Homo sapiens: one gene and its partner. The protein of the gene in region 2 purifies or fractionates together with the protein of the main gene of each other region. This does not show direct contact. Each region holds a gene or a part of one and is shown on either strand. Other genes may lie near its edges.

What was found. Proteins that work in one complex are often made in the same cells at the same time.
Region 1: the proteins of BLVRA (region 2) and CLCN7 purify together in Homo sapiens (affinity purification with mass spectrometry; one large-scale study listed by BioGRID and IntAct). This does not show direct contact.

What each region holds. Positions count from the first base shown.
Region 1 is NC_000016.10:1,451,029-1,455,262, reverse strand, and holds part of CLCN7 (H(+)/Cl(-) exchange transporter 7), read left to right. Parts: intron 1-12; coding exon 13-129; intron 130-797; coding exon 798-852; intron 853-1,368; coding exon 1,369-1,429; intron 1,430-2,369; coding exon 2,370-2,508; intron 2,509-3,546; coding exon 3,547-3,640; intron 3,641-4,234. UniProt on the Homo sapiens protein: Slowly voltage-gated channel mediating the exchange of chloride ions against protons. Functions as antiporter and contributes to the acidification of the lysosome lumen and may be involved in maintaining lysosomal pH.
Region 2 is NC_000007.14:43,803,036-43,808,667, reverse strand, and holds the end of BLVRA (biliverdin reductase A), read right to left. Parts: intron 4,993-5,632; coding exon 4,821-4,992; intron 1,692-4,820; coding exon 1,433-1,691; 3' UTR 1,326-1,432; downstream 1-1,325. UniProt on the Homo sapiens protein: Reduces the gamma-methene bridge of the open tetrapyrrole, biliverdin IXalpha, to bilirubin with the concomitant oxidation of a NADH or NADPH cofactor. Does not reduce bilirubin IXbeta.

The DNA.
Region 1 (4,234 bases), on a different chromosome or scaffold from region 2:
CCTCTGCCGCAGTTCTTTGCTTCCATGATCTCCACGTTCACCCTGAATTTTGTTCTGAGCATTTACCACGGGAACATGTGGGACCTGTCCAGCCCAGGCCTCATCAACTTCGGAAGGTTTGACTCGGAGGTAACCTGCCCCATCGCCCACCTCGCCCACCTCGTATCCTGGTCCAGGACCCTGTTTGCTTAAGGCCCAGGTTGAGAATTTGGTCCTTTAGAAAACTCTGGTTGATAGCTGTGGAGCTGAGAGCTCTTGTGTAAGCTCCAGGGCCCCGAGGGGCTGCAGGAAGACACCCCAAGCTGCCCCTCAGGTCAGGGCACCATGTGACCAGCAGGGCACCTGGGATGTCACACAGTTGCTGCGTGCATGGGGCCTCCCACGGCCTGGGGGCACGTGCAGCAGCCGCTCTCGGGGCAGGTGGGCTCAGGCCTAGTTTCCAGGGTAGCCTGGGGCCTGGGCTGGGGAGACTCTCCGTGCCATCGATAGGGCGGCTCTGTGCGCAGGAAACTGGGGGACCACGGGCTATGTTCCCAGTGCTTGGGGCCCTCCCCGCCCCGGGTGCTGAGGGTGGCAGGGTCTCTGAGAGCCTCGCTGGCCACCCCGCCAGGCAGGGGCCAGGCCTGCTCAGAACACCCAGTGTGTTTCTCCCCTGTGGACTTCCGCAGCCTGCGTGGAAGGGCGGGAAGGCTCTCTGTGGGGACAGCTCTCTTAAGATGGTGGTCCTTGAGTTTCAGCAGAAAGGAGCTGTGGGCCTTTTCCCTCACATCCTCTGCCTTCTCCCTCTCTCTGCACAGAAAATGGCCTACACGATCCACGAGATCCCGGTCTTCATCGCCATGGGCGTGGTGGGTAAGGGCTTCTCCCAGCACCGCAGGGACGGCCTGCGGGCCTGGCTCAGCTGTGACGTGGCCATAGAGACGAGGACTGGAGGCTGTGGCTCCCTGGAGCCTGCCCTCATCCCAGGGCCACCCGGGGGCCTCCAGATTCTTCCATGGGCAGTACACGTGGGGAGTGGGGAGCCCAAAGCTTCGCTTCTGTGGCTTCCCGTTGTTTATCTCTGTTGGCAAAAACCACAGGGCTGCAGGGATGGATGGGATTTCCTGTAAGAGATAGAATTGCTCCCACCAGTATTTATTGCTCTGCTGGACACCTTTGCCCTGGAAGGAAGGCAGAGCCTTTGAGAAACAGCTCCCCCAGCCCTCAGGGTGTGATGATGTGGAGGAAGCATCTTACCAGGACCCCCTAGCCCCCTGCCGTCCCCTTCCCTCTGCAAACCCTCCAGCTTCTCCTGCCATCTGGGAGCCGGCGGGCGGAGGCCCGCACTTTTCCTCCGGTGTCGCTGACTGGCCTTTCCCCTGTTCGCAGGCGGTGTGCTTGGAGCAGTGTTCAATGCCTTGAACTACTGGCTGACCATGTTTCGAATCAGGTGAGGAGAAACCGCATTGCATATCGCGTTGGCAGGCGTGGCCACACAGGCCCTTTGAAAGCGGACGTGGTGGAATGGGGTTTACACTCCTAGGCCACAGCCGAAAGAAAGGCTGTGTATGCAGCGTCCTTCCTGATGGTTTCCCCGGTGGAGCTGGTCAGAGATGTGTCCCGGGGCCTGGAGGGTGACGGACTAGCCCAAGGCTAGGAGTGCGAGGGCTCCTGGAGGACGGCCCCTGGGTAGGAAGTGAGGCCCTGCGTGGGATCGGGCCTGGGCGAGGCATGCCCAACCTTCACCGCCTGGCTCTGCCTGGTAGCAACCGCAGCTGTCCTGGGACACCGGGGCCCCCCGGCTTCTTCCTTCTTGGTCTGTGCTGATTTCAATACTGTCGGGTACAGCCGGGGCACGGGTAGCGCCACTTCCCACACATCTGGAGAAGTTGCTGCCGAGGAGTCTTTACCCCAGGGAAGAGGACGACCCCAGGACATTTGGGTGCCTGATTGATGATTAAACACAGGCCTGGCCGGGCGCGGTGCCTCACGACTATAATCCCAGCACTTTGGGAGGCCGAGGCGGGTGGATCACCTGAGGTCGGGAGTTCTAGACCAGCTTGACCAACATGGAGAAACCCCGTCTCTACTAAAAAATTCAAAAAAAAATTAGCCAGATGTAGAGCCGGGCGCCTGTAATCCCAGCTACTCGGGAGGCTGAGGCAAGACAATTGCTTGAACCTGGGAGGTGGAGGTTGCAGTGAGCCAAGATCGCAGCACTGCACTCCAGCCTGGGCAACAAGAGCAAAACTCCGTCTCAAAAACAAAAACAAACAAACAAAAAGCACCACGGGCCCAGTGTCCTCCATCAGGGACTCGAGTTGCCATGGGGCCTGCGGAGGGGCCGCGCTGCCGTCCTGCCTGCCATGCAGCCTGATTCTTGGTTCCAGGTACATCCACCGGCCCTGCCTGCAGGTGATTGAGGCCGTGCTGGTGGCCGCCGTCACGGCCACAGTTGCCTTCGTGCTGATCTACTCGTCGCGGGATTGCCAGCCCCTGCAGGGGGGCTCCATGTCCTACCCGCTGCAGGTGGGAGGCTGGGCCCGGGCGGGGTCCAGCAGGCAGGGCAGCCACAGGGCGGCCTCCAGGAGGCTCGCTTAGGCTACGGGAGGAGGGCTGCCCACCCCGCCGAGTTCCAGAAGCGCATGGGCTGGCGTGTCTCAAAGAGGGTTAGTCCTGTCCACCCAGATCTCAGAGGAGGCCAGGTGTCTGCTGAGGTGCCAGGGGAATGGGCGGTGGTATGGGGGCCAGAGGCTCCCCCCAGTCCTCTTCCCAGAATGGCAGCCTGACGGGGCGAGCCTCAGGCGCCCTATGGGGGCACCATAGATGTGGACCCAGGAGAAATGCAAACCTCCGTCCACAACTGGACCTGTGCCTGGCGCTCACGGCTCACCGCCGTCCGTGCGTCCATCTGCACTGTGACACGGTTGCCCTGGAAAGCACTACGCTCAGAGGAACCACACGTGAGGTCACGCGACGTAGCCCCATTAACATGAAACATCCAGAACAGGGAGAGCCTAGAGGCCCAGCAGACCAGTGGGTGCCACGGCGGGAGTGGGCAGGATGGGACGGGTCAGGTGTGAACCGTTAGAGACGTGGGAGGCCCGGGGCCATGGGGTTGACCAGCCTTGCTACACTCTGCTCCAGCCCCGTGGATAACACCCCCTGTGCTGCTGGAGCCCAGGAGGCTCTGGGCCTGTGGCACCGGGGCGCCAACAGCCTCTTCTAGGAGCTCATGTGAGCGCCTGGGCCCACCTTCCCCGGCACCAGGGATGGACAGCGTCTCAGCCCATGGTCCTGCTAACCCACCCCCCAGGGCTAGACACGGCCCCCTGCTGGGCCTAGGCCGTGTGTGTCCTCCTTTCCCTCCGTGACCATGGCTTGGGCCTTGTGTGTCCTCCTTGCCCTCTGTGACCGTGGCCCTGACCCAATGGCAGGATCGTGTGGTTTCGCGCCTGATGCTGGCCAGGCACAGGGTACACGGCCTCTCACGGCGACACCAGGTTTGTGCCTGCAGCCCACCAGCTCATCTCCCCTCCCAACGTGTGCTCTCTCCCGACCCCACAGCTCTTTTGTGCAGATGGCGAGTACAACTCCATGGCTGCGGCCTTCTTCAACACCCCGGAGAAGAGCGTGGTGAGCCTCTTCCACGACCCGCCAGGTGTGTGTGGGCAGTGCCGCTGGGCAGGCCCTGGGATCAGGGCCTGGGTGATGCCTTCTGGCTGAGTGTCCCCTGTGGGCTGAGGTTGCAGCCCTGGGCTGGGGGGTCATCCCTAGCATGGATCATAGCAGGGACTCACTCCTGTAATCCCAGCACTTGGAGAGACCAAGGCAGGAGGATCACTTGAGCCTAGGAGGTTAAGACCAGCCTGGGCAACTTAGCGAGACTCTGTCTTTGCAAAAAAGCAACATTATCTGGCTACGGTAGTACACCCACAGTCCCAGGTACTTGGGAGGCTGGGCCGGGAGGATTGCTTGAGCCCAGAAGGTTGAGGCCACAATGAGCTGTGATTACATCACTGCATACCAGCCTGGGTGACACAGCGAGACCCTCTCTCAAAAAACAAAAGAAAACCCAGCCTGGTGACTCCCACACCAAGACCACGGCCTGGCCTCGCTCGACCACAAGTGTTTCACGGAAGCGCAGACCGCGACCTTGGAGTGCCGGCCTTTCACCTCTGCAGTTGTGTCCCTGGCGGTCTCACCCGCCCTGCACGCAGTACAGTGCTGCCTGCTCCAGGAAAGGAACCCCAGG
Region 2 (5,632 bases):
TTGGTGGCAAGGCAGTGTGAGTTTGCCCACATCCTGCATTCATGATAAACAGTTCGCTGTTTGATCATATAGCCTCCAGCGGAATGCTGAGTTGGTCACGTCCCGCGGGCCTTTGGCTCCCTGCAGGGTAACTCTGTCTTAGGATAACTCTTAGGCTCCACCTTAGGGTAACTCTGTCTTAGGCTCTTAAACTCTTAGGGTAACTCTTAGGCTCTGTCTTAGGGTAACTGTCTTAGGCTCTGTCTTAGGGTAACTGCCCTGTCTTAGGGTAACTCAATTCTTCATCACAGCTGCAGGTCACCTACTTGCAGAGGAAGAGTCTGCTTTAGTCACCTGCCACGTGGACAAGCTTGGGTGCATCCTAAGGATGTCGGTTCAGAGGGAGAAGGTGGCTGGGTGTCATGTGTTTAGTCCCTTTTCCAGCTTCACCAGACAGGCAGGTCACTGCTGCCACAGGGAGAGGGGCTGAGGGGCAAAGGGCACCTCTGTGGTCACTCTTGCCTGGAGACACAAGGCCCTCCTGAAGGACCCCTCAACACTTAGGAGCATTAGTACAGCGGGATTAAGGGCTTTTTTTTTCTTCAAATTGGACAGAGGGACAGACTGCTGAGGAATACATGTGGATTCTTTCCTTCTGTGACACTCTGAAAGAATTGTGACTGGGGCATGGGGTGCCACCTTCAGAGGCAGGAGTGTTTAGGAAATGCCACAGTGGCACATGACCTGCGTGGGCTCCAGCAGCAGCAGCAACCTGCAGGGTAGATAGGGCAGCTGAGAACACGAGAGCAGAAGGGCGGTGACTCTATCATCTCGGAGGGTTCTGTTCAAACAACATTTTCTAGTATACAATGAAAAGAGACCTGGTGCCAGGCATGGTGGCTCATGCCTCTAATCCCAGCACTTTGGGAGGCCGAGGCAGGTGGATTACCTGAGGTTGGGAGTTCGAGCGAGACCAGGCTGGCTAACGTGGCGAAACCTCATCTCTACTAAAACTACAAAAATTAGCCAGGATTAGGCACGCGCCTGTAATCCTCAGCTCCTTGGGAGACTGAGGCAGGATAACTGATTGAACCCAGGAGGTGGAAGCTGCAGTGAACCGAGATGGTGCCACTACACTCCATCCTGGGTGACACAGTGAGACTCTCAAAAAAAAAAAAAAAAAAAAAAGAGGCCTGCTAGTACTCATCTCATAGGGCTGTTAGGAGGAGTAAGTGAAATCAGACATACAAAGCATTTAGCTCAGCTCAACCAACGCTCATTCTCGCCTTGTCCCCACTGCATAGCCCCTAACCCCAAATATCCCAACATAGCTCATAACAATAAGATTCTTGTTTCCCCAACATGTTTAATTTTAAGAATAGAGATAATGGTCAACTCTTGAGAAGAACCAAATGCTGGTGCCATCTTGGAAGTGCTACATCACCTCCTCCTCTTACTTCCTTGAACAGCAATATTTCTGGATTTCTTCTGCAAGCCCCAGGCAGTGCAGGATGCGTTTCTTTTCAGCAGCCAGTTCCTTCTCAGAGAACTGGCCCAAGAGTTTCTGGACAAATATATTTTGATCTTTCAGAAATATGTTCTTATTCACTCCTACATTTGGCACATTCTCCAAGGACCCAGACTTGAAATGGAAGCTTAAATATCTGTTTCGTTTTAGACCAGGTCCTTTTTCTTCAATCCATGACAGTGGACTGCAAAGACAAAAGACAAAAGAATCATGTTAGAGATTACACAAGAGCACAAGTGGGTGCTTGCTGGCACCAGACCGCCTGGTAACATGTCCTTGTCAGGCACCCATCCTCCTTGCAGCCACCAGCCTCCCAGAGGCTGTGGGTGACTGTGTCAACCTCACAGCCAAACAGTCTTTAATTTAATTTTGCCATCAGGCAGGGGAATTCATTCAGTGACTTTTTTTTTTCTGGGATGGAGCCTTGCTCTGTCACCCAGGCTGGAGTGCAGTGGTGCAATCTCGACCCACTGCAACCTCTGCCTTCTGGGTTCAAGCAATTTTCCTGCCTCAGCCTCCCAAGTAGCTGGGATTACAGGCGCCTGCCACCATGCCTGGCTACTTTTTAAAAAAATATTTTTAGTAGAAATGGGGTTTTGCCATGTCAGCCAGGCTAGTCTTGAATTCCTGACCTCAAGAGACCCACCTGCCTTGGCCTCCCAAACTGCTGGGATTACAGGCGTGAGCCACTGCACCTGGCCTCCCATGACTAGTTTTAAAAGCTCATAGTACAGTCTAGCAAATGTTCTGGGAGATGGCAACAAAGATTAACTTTTATTTTGGCACTGAATAAAAATAAACTTGAGGTATTCTACGTAGTCTGCCTAAGAAAATTTCTCATGTCTTTTTTTTGAGATGTTTGCTCTTGTTGCCCAGGCTGGAGTGCAGTGGTGCAATCTCGGCTCACTGCAACCTCTGCCTCCAGGTTCAAACGATTCTCCTGCCTCAGGCTCCCCAGTACCTGGGATTACAGGCACCTGCCACCACGCCTGGCTAATTTTTGTATTTTTAGTAGAGACAAGGTTTCACCATGTTGGCCAAGCTGGTCTTGAACTCTCAACTTCAGGTGATCCAACTGCCTTAGCCTCCCAAAGTGCTGGGATTACAGGCGTGAGCCATTGTGCCCGGCCTCTCATGTCCTTTTAAATAATATGGAATCTTGGGATTTGAGGGAATGCAGAATGTCAAGATCTTTCTTGTACCTCAATTTCCTCACTAGTAAAAATAAGTAATGGTAATAAGTATACAGCTTTACCTATCTTGCTGTGACATTGTGAGATAAAAATGCAGTTTGTGGCCAGGCGTGGAGGCTGATGTGGGTGGATCGCTTGAGCCCAGGAATTTGAGACCGGCCTAGACAGTATAGCAAAAACCCATCTTACCCAAAAATACGAAAATCAGCCAGTCTCATAACCCGGTCTCAAAATAAATAAATAAATAGATAAAAAAATTTAAAAATGCAATTTGGGACACGGAAAGTACTATGATTTTAAGAAGTTACTATTATATTATATTAACTGCTCTCTGTCCCAATCCCTCATCTGATGCTTGCCTCTCCTGTGCAAAAATGAGAGCCAGGGCTGGGTGCAGTGGCTCATGCGTGTAATCTCAGCATTTTGAGAGGCCAAGGTGAGCAGATCACTTGAGGTCAGGAGTTCAAGACCATCCTGACCAACATGGTGAAACCTTGTCTCTACTAACAATACAAAAATGAGCCGGGCGTGGTGGCAGGCGCCTATAATCCCAGCTACTCGGGAGGCTGAGGCAGGACAATCACTTGAACCCGGGAGATGGAGGTTGCAGTGAGCTGAGATCACACCACCGCACTCCAGCCTGGGTGACAGAGCAAGACTTTGTCTCATAAAAAAAAAAAAAAAAGAGAGAGAGAGTCAGCCTCTGCCTCCCCAACATCTTGCTTCCTCATTGACTTCTACTCAACTTCAAGACCAAACAAGGCACCGCCTCCCATCAGAACCATGAGCTGACCTAGTCCAGGTTCCCCTTCCCTGTGCTCCTACAGCACCCTACAGTATCTTTACCTCTAATTACAGGGTGCTACAACTGTCTGTGTATAGGTCTGACCACGGCTGCAATCCTAACACTCACATGGCCACACCAGAGCCCGGGCCACCACTGTTGGTCACTCCATAGGGAGCACTGCCAAGTTCCATGTGCTTTGCTTTCATCTGCCAGGCCTCTCTGCCTTTTCCTAGCGAAGAAGAAACTCCTCAAAATGGACTAGATCAGGCTTCATTCAGGAACTCAAATTCTTTTTTCTTTTTAAAATACCCAGTGTCTGCTTCTTTTACTACCAGGAGACCCACCTCTCTGCAAAGGCATCCAGAAACACTCTAAAACCCTTACTGTTCTAAATAATTTACAGAGCCCAGGTGCTTTGGGAGGAAAATTATGAATGTGCTTTTGTTAAAAAAGACCTGGTATGAGAAATAAGTCAGAATGTTTTGGGAACAGTGTGACAGGGTGATGGGATGCTAAAGCTGAAACACAGACCCTCACACTCTGGCTGCACTGAGGGGTGAATGTGTGGCCCTGCGGGGAACATGTACAGTGTTAATGGCAGGGTCTAGGGAGTAGGTGGATGGGTGTTTACTTAAAAATTCTTTCAACTTCACAATATGCCCGAAAACTTTCATAAGAAAACACAGGAAAAAAATCAGGTCACAGAGTTAACATAATTTCTTTTTCTTTTCTTTTTTTTCAAGAAGGAGTCTCGCTCTGTTGCCCAGGCTGAAATGCAGTGGCCTGATCTCAGCTCACTGCAACCTCTGCCTCCCAGGTTCAAGCAATTCTCCTGCCTCAGCCTGCCAAGGAGCTGGGACTGCAGGCATGCACCGCCACACCGGCTAATTTTTGCATTTTTAGTAGAGACAGGGTTTCACCATGTTAGCCAGGCTGGTCTCAAACTCCTGACCTCAGGTGATCCACCACCCTTGGCCTCCCCAAGTGCTGGGATTATAGGCCTGAGCCACCACGCCCAGCCAAGGTAATGTAATTTCCACTACTAATCTGCTATGAATGACTTGCATGACTTAGGCAACCTGCTGGCATTCTGTAAGCCTCTGTCTACTGACTGGCAGATGGGATTATGTTTGTCTTCTTTACCTCACAGGGCTGCTGAGAGGATGAGATGAGGCAACACAAGTGCAATCTCAGCACTCCATCTGCAGAAGCAGACAGCCCTTCTGGAGCTGGGAGTGAGGGTCTAGCCCCTCGGGGCTCCCTTTGGATCATACCTGCAAATGTACTAGGATGTCCTTAAATTTCCTCCTCCTCATGGCTTCTCATGACTTACCTTTTCTTCTCTGTCTCCAGACACACTGTCATTTTCATATACTGATCTTCCTTTCGCTCTTCCAAAGTGGCAGACACAAGAGAAAGCTCCCCAAAGAGGGAGACCAGCCAGGTCAGGCGAGAGATGCCGCTGAATGCAGGGAAGCCAAACCGCTCTTCTTCCAACGGGCCAGCTGTGGGAAATCACAAATGCTGTGGGAACTGGGAAGCAGGAATGCCAAGTGGAAAGCAGGACAGGGGGGTGGGGGTGGCGGGGGTGTGAAAAGATGTGGCCGAGTGATCAGTACAATGGGACCTTGCCTTATGTGGTAGGCAGGCAACGTGATTAATGATACTGATGAAAACTCAGGTGGCTGAACTTCAACTCTATCATAAAAGCATCTCTGTCTTTTCCTGTTTATTAAATTGAGTTTTAGTAAAACATTCTACTGGAAACAGCAGTCAATCCAGCCAAACAGGATAATAAAAAAGTTTCAGGCTTCTAATATATACATCTATGTACACATATGTAGATATACATACACACACACACACACACAACACATACCTACATATACATATATATATATCCTCTTTAGTGATTTAAAGTAGTCTGGTAAAAGTAGAAGAATCAAAGTATTTTAGCCCTGCAAGCCTGTATTCTTATAACTACCTGATGTGTAAGTGGCAATAAGGTATGAAGGTATTATAATAGCTATGGAGAAAATGGTAATACCTTTGAGCTATTTCAATATCAAGAAAATTGATACAATGTTAAATGTTTTCTTAGTCTTCCTAATCTTGTGAACAAAAAAGTACACTCAAAAGAGTATT